Linked DNA regions of Homo sapiens: region 1 is linked to region 2. A link means that fine-mapping ties the variant in region 2 to the expression of a gene that starts in the linked region. Tissue or cell type: whole blood. Region 2 holds a variant in brackets; the other region holds the start of a gene. All regions are shown on one strand. Distances are from middle to middle.

The links. PIP is the estimated chance that this variant, and not a neighbour inherited with it, causes the effect.
Region 1: UVRAG starts here. The variant in region 2 is fine-mapped to the expression of UVRAG in whole blood (INTERVAL, PIP 0.91).

Annotation. Positions count from the first base shown.
Region 1 is chr11:75,811,458-75,819,559 of GRCh38, forward strand. It overlaps UVRAG (UV radiation resistance associated), which reads left to right and starts at 3,753. Exons shown (of 15, transcript NM_003369.4): 1 at 3,753-4,067. The coding sequence starts at 3,951. It overlaps UVRAG-DT (UVRAG divergent transcript), which reads right to left and starts at 3,340. Exons shown (of 2, transcript NR_144531.1): 1 at 3,006-3,340; 2 at 2,057-2,404. RefSeq lists enhancers at 1,864-3,063, 2,987-3,416, 3,287-3,581 and a silencer at 3,877-4,076.
Region 2 is chr11:75,735,264-75,743,366 of GRCh38, forward strand. It overlaps the pseudogene RN7SL786P. Among named protein-coding and RNA genes, the nearest start is that of MOGAT2, 21 kb to the left of the region's middle. The variant C/A (reference allele first, on the strand shown) is at 4,137.

The sequences.
Region 1 (8,102 bases), 76 kb after region 2:
GTTAGGGATTCTATGTGCATCATTTTCTGAAACGTAGTGCCCAGGCTGGACACCTGGCAAAGGTCTGATGGGTGTTTGACTAGACAGGTAAGTGAATGGAAGAAAGAGGGCTCTGTTGAAAGGAAGGGGATAGATTTAACTCAATACAGTTTGAGACACTGAAAGACCCATCTGCCCTATCTTGCTCTTGTTTACCCAATGCATCAGGCCCATGAGGTGGGAGGAGGAAGTGGAGGCAAATGGATTGGGGTAGGCTTAGCTTTTTGGCCCTGGAAACTGAATGTTTGATTTAAATACCCAACATGGTACTAATTAGCTGTTAAAACACTAGCTATTCCCGAGCCAAACAGATCTAAACACCTATTGTTCATCTACTAAACTCCCAATCATCCTTTATAACTTTGGTGAAGCCTGCTCTGACCTTGCCCACCAGCTCCTGAAGAGTTGGTCACTCTTACCACTTGACCTTGGACCCCTTCTATCATTGCATATACATTGCATTTGGCCACCTTATAATCTATGTTCTCTAAACTTGGATATATGTTTCTCTGGGGGATATATAGCACTATGTAAATATTATAATAATTTAATTCTGTGATTTAAAATATTTTTATGTTGAAACAATCAGCCATATTATGAAATAGGATCCCAATAATAAAAGAGTTTTTAGGGCCGGGCGCGGTGGCTCATGCCTGTAATCCCAGCACTTTGGGAGGCTGAGGTGGGTGGATCATTTGAGGTCAGGAGTTCAAGACCACCCTGACCAACATGGTGAAATCCTGTCTCTACTAAAAATACAAAAAAACTTAGCTGGGTGTGGTGGTGCATGCCTGTAGTCCCAGCTACTTGGGAGGCTGAGGCAGGAGAATCACTTGAACCTGGGAGGCAGAGGTAGCAGTGAGCTGAGATCGCACCACTGCACTCCAGCCTGAGTCACAGAGAGAGACTCTGTCTCAAAAACAAGAAAGAAAAGTTTTTAGAATGAAATAGGACATATGAAAATAATGACAGCTAGTATTTATTAAAAATGTACTATCTCCCAGACAGTGTGTTAAATGCTTTACATCATCTTGAATACTTTGCAAGCAGCAGGCTTTTGAGTTCTTCCCAATGCCCCTAGGGATGAGAGTCCTAGTTCTCCTAATGTTTTCGGCATTTGGGAAAAGTGGGAGAAGGGTTGTTTACTTGAGCTCTGCATTTCCAGAACCCAGTAGCTAGCCTGTGCAAAGGTGAACCTCAGTAAAGGCTTGTGGAAAGAATAGATCCTGCTCTCTGCTGGAATGTCCTTTCCTCCCTCTCTCCTGACTTGGTGAACTCTTATTGGCCCTTCAATACCCTGTTTCAATGTCACCTCCACTGTGAAATCTGACTCTCAACTATTTTCTCTGGCTCCCACTGCCTTTGGGCTTCCCTCAGACCCAGCAGTGAGTAACTGGATGATCACTCTTCGTTTGTTTTTGATATGGGGTCTCAGTCTGTTGCCCAAGCTGGAGTACAGTGGCATGATCTTGACTCACTGCAGCCTCAACCTCCCCAGGCTCAGGTAATCCTCCCACCTCAGCCTCCTCAGTAGCTGGGACTATAGGTGAAAACGACATGCTGGGCTAATTTTTGTATTTTTGTAGAGACAAGGTTTTGCCATGTTGCCCAGGCTGGTCCCAAATTCTTGGGCTCAAGCAAGAATTGTGATAATGTGTTATGGCAGCCTCAGAAAACTAATACAGCTTAGAAACAGAAATGTGTTTTCTGTGAAATTCCCCCAGATCTTGGCACCACATGAGTTCAATCAGATAATATTTGGGATTTCCCAGTGACTCCTTTCTCAACAAACACCTGATCAAGCGACTCCTTTCTCAACAAACACCTGACCACACGCCCCAGGCTCCAGCCATGAGGAACCACTCAGTGTGTCAGAACAGGAGACAGTGTGACATCTTTGTGATCCAGCTCTGAGAAAAGATCCAAGGTGTTTTTCAGGCTTCTGAACACCCTGGAAAGATAGTATGCTTACATTTTGTTTAAAAAATTTAAAATGCAACTACTATATGCCAGGTCCTGTGTGGGCACTTTACATATGTTGATTTACTTTAATCCCTACAGCAATCCTATTACTATTTTAAAGCTGAGAGAGGGGAAGTGACTTGCCTTGGGATACATAGCTCAAAGGTGGTAGAGCCAAGATTCCAAAGTGCCTGATTCCTATTGTGTCTGACTCTAAAACACTATGTTCTTTCTGCTATGTTCATCCAGGTGGTGGAAAAATTCAGTCTAGGAGTAAAAAAAGGAAGATCAACATCCTGCAGAATGACTCATGCTATTCATTATAGAAGCAATTGCTGGAGATGCTATCATTGTGGATCACGGAAGTCTTCATGGAAGAGGTGGCATTTGAGCTGGGCCTTCACTGCAAAAAAAAAAAAAAAAAATTTCCTGATTCTCTGTCAGGCACTGGGGATCCAGAGATGAATCAGACAAAGTCCTTTTGCTTGAAGAATTCACAGTATTTTGTGTGTGTGTGGGAAGGAGGGTGGCTGCTTACATGTGTTAAAAGACAATGTGGCCAGGCCTGGTGGCTCATGCCTGTAATCCCAACACTTTGGGAGCCCGAGACTGGAGGATCGCTTGAGCCTGGGAGTTTGAGACTAGTCTGGGAAATATGGCCAGAACCCCATCTTTACAAAAAAATTTTAAAATTAGCTGGGCCTGGTGGCATGTGCCTGTATTCCCAGCTACTTAGGAGGGTGAGGTGGGAGGATCACTTGAGCCCAGGAGGTCGAGGCTGCAATGAGCCGTGATTTTGCCACTGCACTCCAGCCCGGGCGAAAGAATGAGGCACTGTTAAAAAAAATTAATAGAATAATCCAGACCCACGGTAGGGTCAAAATTCCTAACTCAAGGTCCCAGAGAGGCTCAGAGAAGCCTTTTGGAAGAAGGGACTCCTGCCCCAGCTAAGACTGATGGATAAGTAGCAAAGGCTTTCTGGGGACACAGCACAAACAGCCCACCTGAAGCGGTGAATCGGCGTCCTGGGTGCCTGGCACACCTTGTAGCTCAGCTTACTAGCTAGTGGAGTGCGAAGGGGCGTGTACTTGTCGGTTGGAGCTGGTCATGAAAGAGCTCGTGGGACTGCCCGACGGTTCTCAGGTCCCAGTGCATCCTGCGTGGTGGCTCTCTGCTGAACCATAAAGCATTCCTTTTCAATCCCTGCACGCTCACGCCGGGAAAAGACTGCACAAGGGGCCTGCCAAGGCAGACAAGCGATCGCCACCCAGCTGGCTTCCGAGGGTCCCCGCCCTCCACCGGAGGCCTGTTACCACGGCAACCAGTGAGGGCGGAAGTGGCTCAGAAGACCGGTTCTCCCTAATCAGGTGACTCTCCCGCCTCCTGCACGTGACACCGGAGCCCAGAAGCGCGCTCTACCTAATCAAGACCCCACCCCTCTTTCCCTTTACTGACAATTGACAGCGACCTCTTGCAATGGCCCTTCCGCCTCCACCAGGAGACTCTGCCCGTTGGTAGTAAAAGAACCAATTAGACTGGGAAAAAAAGAAGCAACGCCCCAGGTTTCACCCCGGCTTGACAGACGCAATTGAGGCCATCCTTGAGTCCCTCCGCCCCCAAGTCCAGTAATGCCAGCGATGGACAGACCTTCTACCCAATAGCACGCCCCTTTTCTGCCGTTGGGTCCCGCCCCCTTGAGGGCTAAGCCAATGAGCGCTCCGGGTCTCAGCGGGGTGGAGGGGTTGCACTGCGGTAATATGGCTCTTCCTTAGCCAGCGGCGGCAACGGCGGCAGCGGCGGCAGCGGCGGCGGCTACTGTCTGGGCTGAGCAGTAGTGCCTCTCGGGTGGCGGGTTTCTAGGCTGCAGGGGCTTGGTAGGTGGTGGCAAGGGGGCGGCGGCGGATGCCGGAAGAGTGCCCGCCCCGCCGCTTGGCGGCCCCTGGATCGAGATGAGCGCCTCCGCGTCGGTCGGGGGCCCCGTCCCCCAGCCACCCCCGGGCCCGGCCGCTGCTCTGCCTCCCGGTTCTGCCGCGCGGGCCCTGCATGTGGAGCTGCCGTCTCAGCAGGTAAGCCCGCGCGGCTCGCAGCACTCGGGAGGGACCCGGGCAGGCCCGCGTGGAGAGCTTGCTGGCTCCGGGCTGACCCCGCGAGCCGGGACACCCAGAGCAGGGACCCGGAGGGCTCGCGGGACTGAGGAAGACTGTCAGGAGGTTTGTGCGGGGAGGGGTCCAGTGATGGCCGAACCTCCGGGAGATCCCGGAGTCCTAGGAGAATCCCGTTACAGGAGATGGGCTTGTTAAGGGACAAGCAGCCAGCCAGCTCAAGTCCCTGGGGCCCCGGCCCGAGGCCGCCTCCCCCAACGCAGGGAGCCGGGGATTGCCCCGCGCAGACCCTCTCCCTCGTTCCGCCCAGGAAGGGACCCGGGGAACCCCCTGTGTCCCACGGGCCATAGTGAAAGCACTTTTCCTTTCTTTCCCCACCTGGCCATCCCCGCTTACGGAGAAACCAGTTTGTACTCTTCGTGCAAGAGCCCTGGAGGAGACTTTAGGGTGTCTACCATTTGCTTTAATCTCCCCTGATTATTAAGTATTCGGCCTCTTTAGAGAAATGTATTCAAGACTTGGGGGTTTCCTTCCTAATTCTCCGAGTCCCAAGGAACGCATCTTAATAATTAGGAGGACTTTTTCCTTCTTCATTCCCTTCAGTGAGTCTCTGTGGAAGGAGGATTTGATGTATATATTCATGTGTTCCTCCATCCTTTAGGAAGGGCTTTGAGGACTTCTTGGCTCTGCGTTGTAGGAAGATAAGAAGGGGGAAACACTGACTTTGGAGATGTGACAAAACTCTTTGTTTCACTCACATATCTGTAGAGTACTTCCCTCCTTATATCGGTTGCCTTCCTTCTGTCCCCCAAGGGGAGATTTTGCAGGAATCTTAGCATTAAAGAGACCTAAAGAATACCTTTCACCCTCTCCCTTTATTCCTCCTGCCAAGAAGAGGATCTAGAGAAACTGTCATTTACTGAGAACTTACCGTGTTGGATTTGTGCAAAGGGCTCAGTGGCCATTAGTTCACTGAATTTTCACAACTCTGTGAGATAGCTGTTTTTATTACCCCCATTTGGCAGTTGAGGAAACTGAGGCTTGTCCAGAGCCTTCCAGTTAGTAAGTGGTGGGGCTGGGTTGCAGAATCCAGTGTCTGACTCTGCAGCCATGCACGTGCTTGAGACTTGGGCAGCCTTCCTCCACCACCTTTACACAGGACAGAGTGAGTTCTTTCATACACCCCTCCAACTTTCCATCAGCTACCAGTGGGACTTAGGAAGGATTCAGAAAGAGGAAGGGAGAGGTTGTAGGGGAGAGAGTGGTTGAAAAGTGAAATGGATTTGAGTGCAGTAAAGGAGGCGGGGGCTAAAGGGAAGAGAAGAGTTGGAGATAATAACCACTGTGGTTGCCTTTGAATAGGCAGGCAGAAGAGCTTACAGTAGCAACGGCTTTTTGTGTGACTACTACCGAAGAGGATTGAAAAGATACCATGTGCCCTGGTTTTGTGATGCTGTTGGCAGGGAATTTCTGAATAGTGGGAGTTTGAGGGTAGTGGGGGTTTGGATTGTGTTGTGAGATACAGGGAGAGGGTAGAAGTCTGGCTAGGGAGGGAGACACGTCTCTGGAGTGAGCATTAATGTGAGTTTTTGTATGTGTGGGAGGTAGAGTGTGAGAGTGGTTACTGGGAGAGGGAATAGGGAGCACCGTTAGAAACACCCTGGAGAAGTCCTAAGGAGTTCAGGGGCCAAGAAGGTTTTAGTTTGGGGGAGCTTCGAGAGTGTGTGGGATTAGGAAAGAGAAAGCATCATTTACTTCATGGAGCCTATTCTCTGATAACAGTTCACAGTTTAACACTGGGAAAACTAATGCAAACAAACTGTTGATGGAATAATTTCAGCCTCATTTGTTAGTGTTTGTGAAATTTTTGGATTGGTGCCGAGGGATATATAGTGGCTTAAGTGTACAGCTGAATGCTATATGAGTGCCGAGTATGCTATTTACATCTTTCTGGGGGTGTCAACCTTGAATTCTTGGAAGGCAGCCTATATAACAAAGCACTTTTACTTTTGCAGTTGACATCAATTTATCTTTTGGGGTCAAAATGCTCAGATTTTTAGTGTATAAATAATATCAATAAAATTTTGTTGAAGTTTTATCTGTATATAGTAAAGTACACAGATTATCAGTATTCAGTGGATGAATTGTCACCAAGGGAACAGTTATGTAAGTACTACCCAGATTAAGAGATACAAAATTTTGGCTGGGCGCAGTGGCTCACACCTGTAATCCTAGCACTTTTGGAGGCTGAGGTGGGGGGATCACTTGAGGCCAGAAGTTCAAGACCAGCCTGGCCAACATGCTGAAACCCTGTCTCTACTAAAAGTACAAAAAAAAGAAAAAAAAAAAAAAAGCCAGATGTGGTGGCGCACATTTGTAATCCCAGCTACTTGGGAGGCTGAGGCAAGAGAATTGCTTGAACCTGGGAGGCGCAGGTTGCAGTAAGCCGAGATTGCGCCACTGCACTCCAGCCTGGGTGACAGAGTGAGACTCTATCTAAAAACAAACAAACAAACAAACAAACAAAAAACCCCCCAAAAACCCCAAAATTATTAACATCCTGGAAGTCCTCCTATGTTCTCTTCCATCTCTGTTTTTCCTTTTTCTCTAAAGGAACCACTTTTCTGATTTCTAATGTAAAAGATCAGTTTTTGCCTGTTCTTGAGCTTTATATAAATGGAGTTGTGCAAAATGTATTTTTTTGTGTCTGGTTTCTTTTACTCAGTATTGTTTGTGAGAGTCATGGAGTATCTGTGTATGTCTAATGTTTTTTTTTTAAGTATTACTTTGTTGCCTTTTTTTGCTTTTACAAAATTTCAAATATTTAGATAAATTGGAATGTCAGTTGTTAACTTTCCTTTAAATAATACTTTCAAAACCATACATTTTAATACATCCCGTACTAGTTGGCAAGGTATCAATTTTTTTTTTTTTTTGAGATGGAGTCTAGCTCTGTTGCCCAGGCTGGAGTGCAGTGGCGCGATCTTGGCTTATTGCAACCTCTGCCTCCTGGGTTCAAGCGATTCTCCTGCCTCACCCTCCCAAATAGCTGGGATTACAAGCACCTGCCACCACGCCCAGCTAATTTTTGTATTTTTAGTAGAGACGGGGTTTCATTGTGTTGGCCAGGCTGGTCTGGAACCCCTGTCCTTGTGATCCTCCCACCTCGGCCTCCCAAAGTGCTAGAATTACAAGTGTGAGCCATTGCGCCCGGCTGGTATCAATATTTCTAAACAAATAAACAAGCCCGGTTGGTTTAGGATTTTTATGATCAAGTTATCTCAAAACATAGATTCAGTGGCTCCCAACCTTCTTCTAAGATGGGGTTTGTCAACCTTGGGACTGTTGACATTTTGGAGTGAAGATGGGCTGTTACATGTTTAGCCACATCCCAAGATATCAGCAGCACCTCCCCAGTCCTGACAATCAAAAATGAGTTCAGACATGGCCAAATGTTTCTTAGGGGGCAAAATTACCCCTAGTTGAGAACCACCTTACTAAGGTGTATTTTCATTTTAGGATAGAGAGTATCCTTGTTATTATTGACTCATTTATTTCAATCTTCATTAAGTCCTGTTGATTCTAGAAGTGGCTGTAATGTTTAAAAAGTTAACACTGCAAACACCTGAACTTTTCCATGTATGAGTACTAACTATAGTCCATATCAGCCCCTTGACTGTGTCAGATGGGACTACTACTTAATTTTGTCTCCTTTTGCTTCTATGTGATCTTACTTTACTGTAATTTGAGCAAGAACTAGTGACACATTTTTTTTACACTTTTTTTTTGTTTTGTTTTTGATTTTTGAGACAGTTTTACTCTGGTCACCCAGGCTGGAATGCAGTGGTGCAATCTCCTCTCACTGCAACCTGCCCCTCCCGGGTTCAAGCAATCCTCCCACCTCAGCCTTCCGCATAGCTGGGATCACAGGCTGTGCCACCATGCCCAGCTAATTTTTGTATTTTTGGTAGAGATGGGGTTTCACCATGTTGGCAGGCT
Region 2 (8,103 bases):
CTACTGAATGGTGGAAGCCAAATGTCCAGTCAAGGAGTCAGGAATTTCTCCCAAAGGTAGGGAGGAGCCCTGGAAAGTCCTTGAGCTGGTGTAGGTCAAGGGCAAGGCCACAAGGGCAAAAAATGCCTTAGGTTGAACAGGGCATTTGTCTTAATGACCTCACAGAAGGGCAGAGTCAGCACCCTGAGCCATTTACTGAGGACCTACTATGTGCTAGGATCTGGATGGGATGCTCTACATGTATTATGTCAAACACACCCACAGTGACCTCTTTATAATAGATGAGGTTCATTTGTCAGAAAGGCTAAAGGACTTTCTGGAATCCTGGCCCCAAGACGTGGACTGCCTGCCCAGACAGCTATCACATGCTCCTCACATTCTGCTGGGTTCTGGCCTCAGACCCAGCCGAATGGCACAATGGAAATGGCAGAGGCCGGAGAGCCAGCCTGGCTGCGTGACCCTGTGCAAGTCAGGTCCAGTTGCTGAGTCTCAGTTTCTTCACTTGTAAATGGTCTTCCCACAAATGGGTGTTCAATAAATGCCAGTTCTTCCTCCCTCTCCCCCTTTATAAATTCCAGGAAATGGTTTTTGAAAGACTTACGAGAGTTTGTGTCTATCACAAATGAGGTTAGGGCATTTCTAAGACTCTAGAGTCCCTTCAACCCCTGCTGGAAAACCAACCTGTTTCCCTTTTCAACAGTTGAACTGGTGTACATCTGTTCACATCTTTAGTGATAAGGTGAGGAGAAAATTATGACAGGCAGCTCGTTTCTGGCAGCCCCTTTTAGCTTTTTTTTTTGAGACAGAGTCTTGCTCTGTTGCCCAGGCCGGAGTGCAGTGGCACAATCTCGGCTCACTGCAACTTCTGCCTCCCGGGTTCAAGCAATTCTCTTGCCTCAGCCTCCCAAGTAGCTGAGATTTCAGGCACATGCCACCACGCCCGGCTAATTTTTTTGTATTTTTAGTAGAGACGGGTTTCACCATGTTGGCCAGGCTGGTCTCGAACTTCTGATCTCGTGATCTGCCTGCCTCGGCCTCCCAAAGTGCTGGGATTACAGGCTTGAGCCACCGTGCCCAGCGTCAGCCCCTTTTAAAGGGGACCTTAAAGAACAAAAAACAGCCACAAAACTCTGTCCCTATCAATAACATGTCAATGATTTAAGAGCCCCTCCTCTTTTTTTTTTTTTTTTTTGAGACAGAGTTTAACTTTTGTTGCCCAGGCTGGAGTGCAATGGCACGACATTGGCTCACCGCAACCTCCGCCTCCCGGGTTCAAGCGATTCTCCTGCCTCAGCCTCTTGAGTAGCTGGGATTACAGGCATGCGCCACCACACCCGGCTAATTTTGAATTTTTAGTAGAGACGGGGTTTCTCCATGTTGGTCAGGCTGGTCTTGAACTCCCGACCTCAGTTGATCCACCCGCCTCAGCCTCCCAAAGTGCTGGGATTACGGGTGTGAGCCACTGTGCCCAGCCAAAAGAGCCCCTCCTCTAAAAAAAAAAGTAAAATTGTCAAAAGCCTGCATTTGGGGATGCCCTAGGTCAATGCTTCTTGAAATGTCTGTGGTAAACGACCAGATTTTTGGTTTTTGCTTTTTTTCCCAATCCTTCATGGACCTATCCATTTTATAAGACACAATATAAGTTACTAGAAAAATGAGAAAAGAAAACTAAGACATAGTATAACATTTTATTATTAGTTTCAACAGACATGAAATTACTGTGCCATATTGCTCTGAAGTCTCTGAACAGTTCCGCTCCATTTCTGTAATTATTTTGTCAAGAACCAGTAACAAGCTGTTCATGGACGTGCATTGGTCTCCAGACCACATTGGAGTAACACAGCACTGCCCTGGAACTCTTTGTTGTGACTAAATGCTGGCATTGTAAGGTTGTTGCGAGTTAAGAAACACAAAACTAACCGGTGAATTGCAAAGTGCTATACACTAATTGGTTAGGGATGTCATCTTAGCCACTTTCACCCAGATAAGCTGAGAAGGCTCCTAGAAGGGCAGGGCTTGCCTGAAGTCACATAGCTGGTAAGTGGCAGATGCAGAACTGGCATCCCAGTTCCCACCCAGTGCTCTTTCCACTCTGCCTTGGGCAGTGGATACGAGGATGTGTCCCCAGGCGCATTTTCGGGGAAGAACTCCATTCCCAGCTGCAGGAAGTGTAGTCTGCCCCTTCTGAGATCACCTCCACTGCAGAGAGCTGCCTCTGCAAGGGCATACAGCCCATGACTGAGCCAGCCAGGGTAGAAAGGCCGGGCCACGTCAGCCCAGATCAATACAACTCTGATGGGACATTTCAGTTTGACTTCTCCCTCCATCCAAATTTGCTGCGTTCCCTTCCTTCTTGTGGTATTGACTCCAAAGGTTCTCTAAGAAACATCCTGTAGGCTACACACCATCTCAGAATCCACTTCCTGGAGAACCCAATCTGTGACATCATGCGTATTTAAAGGGGTAAATCTCAGTACGAGGCTCGGAGAGGTTAAAAAATTTGTCTGCAGTCACACTGTTTTTAAGTGGTGGAGCGAGGATTTGAATTCAGATCTGACTGCAAAGGCTGTATTTTTGTCTAATAAAGTGTGACCTGACTACCAGCTTGGGAAACAAAAGAAAGGATCAGAATGGTTGGATTTAATCTGTAAAATTAAAAATAACTCTTATTTATTCAAAATGGCACAGCCATTTTAGAAGACAGTTTGGCAGATTCTCATAAAGTTAAACATAGACTTACTACACAACTGAGCAACTGTGCTCTTAGGTATTTACTCTACTGATTGGAAAACTAGTCTATATGAAAACCTGTACATGAATGTTTATGGCCACTTTATTCATAATCACCAAAAACTGGAAGCAACCAAGATGTCCTTCAATAGGTGAATGGATGTTTTAAAAACCTGTGGTTCAATCCATACAATGGAATCCTATTCAGAAATACAGATAACTGAGCTGTAAATTCACACAATAGCATGGATGAATCTTAAGTGCATTTTGCTAAGCCAAAGAAGCCAGACCAAAAAGGCTACATACTGTATGATTTCACTCCTATGACATTCTGGAAAAGGATAACATATAGGGACAAAAAAGCATATCAGCTGTAGGGAGCCTATGGCTGAGGAAGCACTGGGAGCTTTCTAGGGCAGTAGAACTAATTCCTATGGTATTATAGTGCTGTCTACTTGATACTATGCATTTGTTAAAAACCACAAGGTAGGCCAGGAGCGGTGGCTCATGTCTGTAATCCTACCACTTTGGGAGGCCGAGGTGGGTGGATCACCTGAGGTCAGGAGTTCGAGACCAGCCTGGCCAACATGGTGAAACCCCGTCTCTACTAAAAATACAAAAATTAGCCAGGCTAGGTGGCAGGCGCCTATAATCCTAGCTACTCGGGAGGCTGAGGCAGGAACGTCGCTTGAACCCAGGAAGTGGAGGTTGCGGTGAGCCAAGATCATGCCACTGCACTCCAGCCTGGGTGACAAGAGTGAAACTCCATCCCCCACCCCCCAAAAAAAAACCCACAAGGTAAACTTTAATGTACAGAAATTAAACTTTTAGAATCGCCCAAAAAGTTAAGGTATCCCAGGGTAGAATGCAGACTGTGATGATGAAAGAATCTCAATTGTCTTATAAATGTATGAGAAAACTTCACTGAAGGGAGTGAGAGAACAAAGGGCTGACCTAAGTAACTTTGGGAAAGAATATTTTGACTGGAAACTGCAAGACTGATGTAAAAATACAATGTCCATAAACACTGCACCGTACTTGGTAAAGATGAATTTATCATGGGGGTGCAGGGTAACAAGTCTGAAACTGCCATACATGTGTTGCAATTGAACACATAAGTAAATAGATGACAGGGGCCACTTTTCTCACTGTTGGAGAAGGAGGATGACTAGAATGATCCATGTGGTAAGGAATTAGAGGGAGACATCATATGAACTCATATTTAGTTTAATATAGACACAGCTGGATAGATGCAATTATAAATAGGTATGTATACATGGGAAATATATGTCTCCTAGCTCTGTCTTCTGAGAGGGACTAGAAACAGTGGCACCCAGTAGCAACTAGCACACCGAGAGCTCAGATCTTGGTTTCTAATACCTTTCTCTAAAAAAAGAATTCCTGGC[C/A]AGACACGGTGGCTCATGCCTGTAATCCCAGCACTTGGGAGGCTGAGGTGGGAGAATCATAAGGTCAGGAGTTCAAGACCAGCCTGGCTAACATGGTGAAACCCTTTCTCTACTAAAAATACAAAAATTAGTCAGGCGTGGTGGCAGGCACCTGTAATCCTAGCTACTCAGGAAGCTGAGGTGGGAGAATTGCTTGAATCCAGGAGGCGAAAGTTGTAGAGAGCCAAGATTGCACCACTGCACTCCAGCCTGGGAGACAAGAGTAAAACTCCATCTCAAAAATAAAATAAAATAAGTAAAAAATAAAAATAAATATAAAAAGAATTCCTGAGACACTTAAAGAAATGCCTGATTCTAGGGCTGGAGTAGGGAAAATGCAAGATGAGCCTGAAAAATCTTGTAGTGCCAGAAAGTAAAGAAGTGCTTAAAAAAACAAAATGATGAGGATATCTCAAAAGGACACAGGAGCCAAACAGAACAAGCTCCCAATGTCCACAGCTGCAACAATTCAAACAATAAAATAAACAACATAGTACTGGGATTATAATCCAAAGTGTAAAATAAATATCCATGAGTACATACTGATATAAATGATTGAATAATAAATAAATGGGAGAGAAGAGACAAATCTCCCTAAGAGAAGAATCCCAAATAACTTCTGTAGATATTCCCCCTGAGATGAAGCTCAGCCCTCTCCCAGTTGAACTGGGTTGTGCTTAGAGACTTGCTTCCAAGGGTAGCACTGAGAAAGAGCTGGGTGTGGAGGGAGGGACAGGGAGTAACTTTATAGTGAAAGCACCTAGAAAACACTACCTCTGCCAGGTGATCAAGGTTAAAATCACCAGTGATAAGTCATGTTGATAGTAAGTACCCTTGATGTATTATGATGAGAATGGCACATCACTCCTGTGGCCTTTCTCCCCAAACGCCATAACCCCAGTTTAATCAGGAGAAAAACATCAGATAAATCCATATTGAGGAACAGCCCACAGAACACCTGACCTGTACTTCTCAAAACTAAACATCATCAAATACAAGGAAAATCTGAGAAACTGTCACAGACCAGAGGAGGCTAAGAAGACATGATATCTAAATGAAATATGGTATCCTGGGTGGGATCCTCTAACAGATAGAAGTCACTAGGAAAAACCAGTAAAATTGGAATAAAATAAGGAGTTTGATAGTAATGTGCCAATCTTGCCTTTTTAGTTGTGACAAATGTGTAATAGTTCTGAACATTTAAGGTGAAGTGTGTATAGGAATTCTCTTTACTATCTGTGCATCTTTTCTGTAAATCTAAAACTATTCTAAAATTAAAATTTTATTTACATTGAGAACAATTGCTGTGAGATGTCATGTTAGGTTTCTGCAGCTGTTATAGCAAATTACCATAAACTTAGTCATTTAAAACAACAGAAATGTATCCTCTTACAGTTCTGAAGGCAAGAAGTCTGAAATCAGTGGCAATGGTGTCAGTTTGATAAGGTGCCAGCAGGGCCACTTCCCTCCAGAGGCTCTAGGGGGGAATCTGTTTCCTTAACTTGTCCAGCTTCTAGAGCTACTTTCCTTGGCTCATGGGCCCTTCCTCCATCTCCACAGGTAGCAGCATCTTCAAATCTTTCTCTCTGCTTCCACCATCACATCATCTTCTGCCCTCTGTGTCTCGTAGAATCTCTCTCTGCTTCCCTCTTATGAACATGTAATGGCATTCAGAGCCTGTCCATATCATCCAGGGTAAGCTCCCATCTCAAGATCCTCAGCATAATCACATCTGCAGAGCTCCCTCAACCTTTTTTGCCATGTAAGCTAACATCCACAGGTTGTAGAGACTAGGATGTAGATATCTTTTGGGGGGCCACTTTTCAGCCTACCACAGATGCTAGGCAAGTTCTTCACTCTCTCTGAGACTCAGGTTCCTCATCTGGAAGTGATATATGCAAATGTGAAATAAATTAGGAGGGCTGATCTGCCACTGGACTGGTAGAAGGGGAAGGCAGGAGCCTGAAGAGCCCCTTGTCTTGGGCAAATGAGACCTGACACTACTCTCTTCCCCATGTGTTCCTCCCATCCACATTGGCCATGTCCTCATGGTAGTATAAATAAAGAAATGTGGGGTTAGGGATCCTAAGACCTGAGTTCAAGTCCCAGTCCTGTCAGCAACTTGCAGCATGTCCTCGGGTAAGTCACTTTCTGTATCTGGAGTATATAGTGATTCTACAAAACATATATGTTAATTCTGCCCTGGAAAAGGGCTGGAGAGGGACTACTGAGATCCCTCTTGCCCTGAGAGGTCATAATTATGGGATGTTTATATTCCTGGCGTCTTTCTTTTGACTAAAGGATCTAGGTCCCTCCTAGTAACTAGAGCCCAGTGGAAGCAGCAATGCTTAGTAATGGTAGTAATGGCAAAGATTTAGGCACTGTGGCTTGTGGGACGGTAAAGAGGGGAGGGAAGAGCCTCCTGTTTCTTACTCGCTTCTACCAAGGCCCCATTAGTCTAGACTAAGGGTGAGCAAGCTATAGCCTCTGTTTGAATGACCTGTGGGCTAAGAACGGTTTTTACAGATGAACATTTGAAATCAATTTAATGATAGGAAACACGAACTTTGAGCCCCAGTGAACTAAAATGTTATCTTCCAAAAAAGAACTTCATTATTCTTATTACAAGACCTATGTTACAAAAAATTATACTCAATTATTTACTTTGGGTTTACAGTTAAAATTTTGTAGCCAGGTGTGATGTCATGCACCTTAGTCCCAGCTATTCTGGAGACTGAGGCAGGAGGATCGCTTGAGCCCAGGAGCTCTGGGCTGTAGTGTGCTATACCAATTGTGTGTTCACACTCAGTTCAGCATCATTATGGTGACTTCCTGGGAGCAAGGGACCACCAGGTTGCCTAAGGAGGGGTAAACCAGCCCAGGTCAGAAATGGAGCAGGTTAAAACTCCTGTGCTGATTGGTAGTGGGGTCGCACCTGTGAATAGCCACTGCACTCCAGCCTGGGCAACTTCATGAGACCCCATCTCTTTAAAAAAACAAAAACAAAAACAGGCCGGGCATGGTGGCTCATGCCTGTAATTCTAGCACTTTGGGAGGCCTAGGTGGGCAGATTGCCTGAGCTCAGGAGTTAAAGACCAGCCTGGGCAACACGGTGAAATCCTGCCTCTACTAAAATTTAAAAAAAAATTAGCTGGGCGTGGCGGTGGGTGCCTGTAGTCCCATCTACTTGGGACACTGAGGCAGGAGAATTGCTGGAACCCAGGAGGTGGAGGTTGCAGTGAGCCGAGATCGCACCACTGCACTCCAGCCTGGGCAACAGAGTGAGATTCCATCTCTAAAAACAACAACAACAACAACAACAAATATCTTGTAGAAACACATTTCATCGCTTGTTATATGAATACCTGCATAATATCCTGGACTTTGCCTTTCTGCCTGCAAGCCTCTGTCAGCCCTCAATTAATGAGTTGTCTTATCTTCCACCTCAAATCTATCTTAAGCTATCCACCCTCCACTTTGCAGCCAGAAGGATCTTTCTAATGTAAGTCTGACCATACCATTCACCTGATTCAAACTTCCCAGTGGTCTATCTGTCCAGCTCCTTGGCTGGCATACAGCCCGCACAGTCTGGTTTCTGTCTTCCTTCCCAGCCACTCTCTACCCTCCAGCCATATTGAACTTCCAGTTCTCTAGGGCACCTTGCTTCCCCCAGGACCAGCATTTTACACAAGCTGTTCCCTCTGCCTAAGATGCTGTTCACTACTCAAATTCAATTCCTCCTTAGTCTTTTAAGTCATTTTAGACATTAACTCCACCAAAAAGCCATCCCTGATCCAACCTCCCTCCAGGCTGTGAGGTGCCTCCTCTTGGCTTCCGCAATTCCCTGCTTCCTTCCAGCCTAGCATTGATCACACTTTTGTTTTTCAGTGGTGTTTTTTTTTTTTTTTTTAGATGGAGTTTCGCTCTT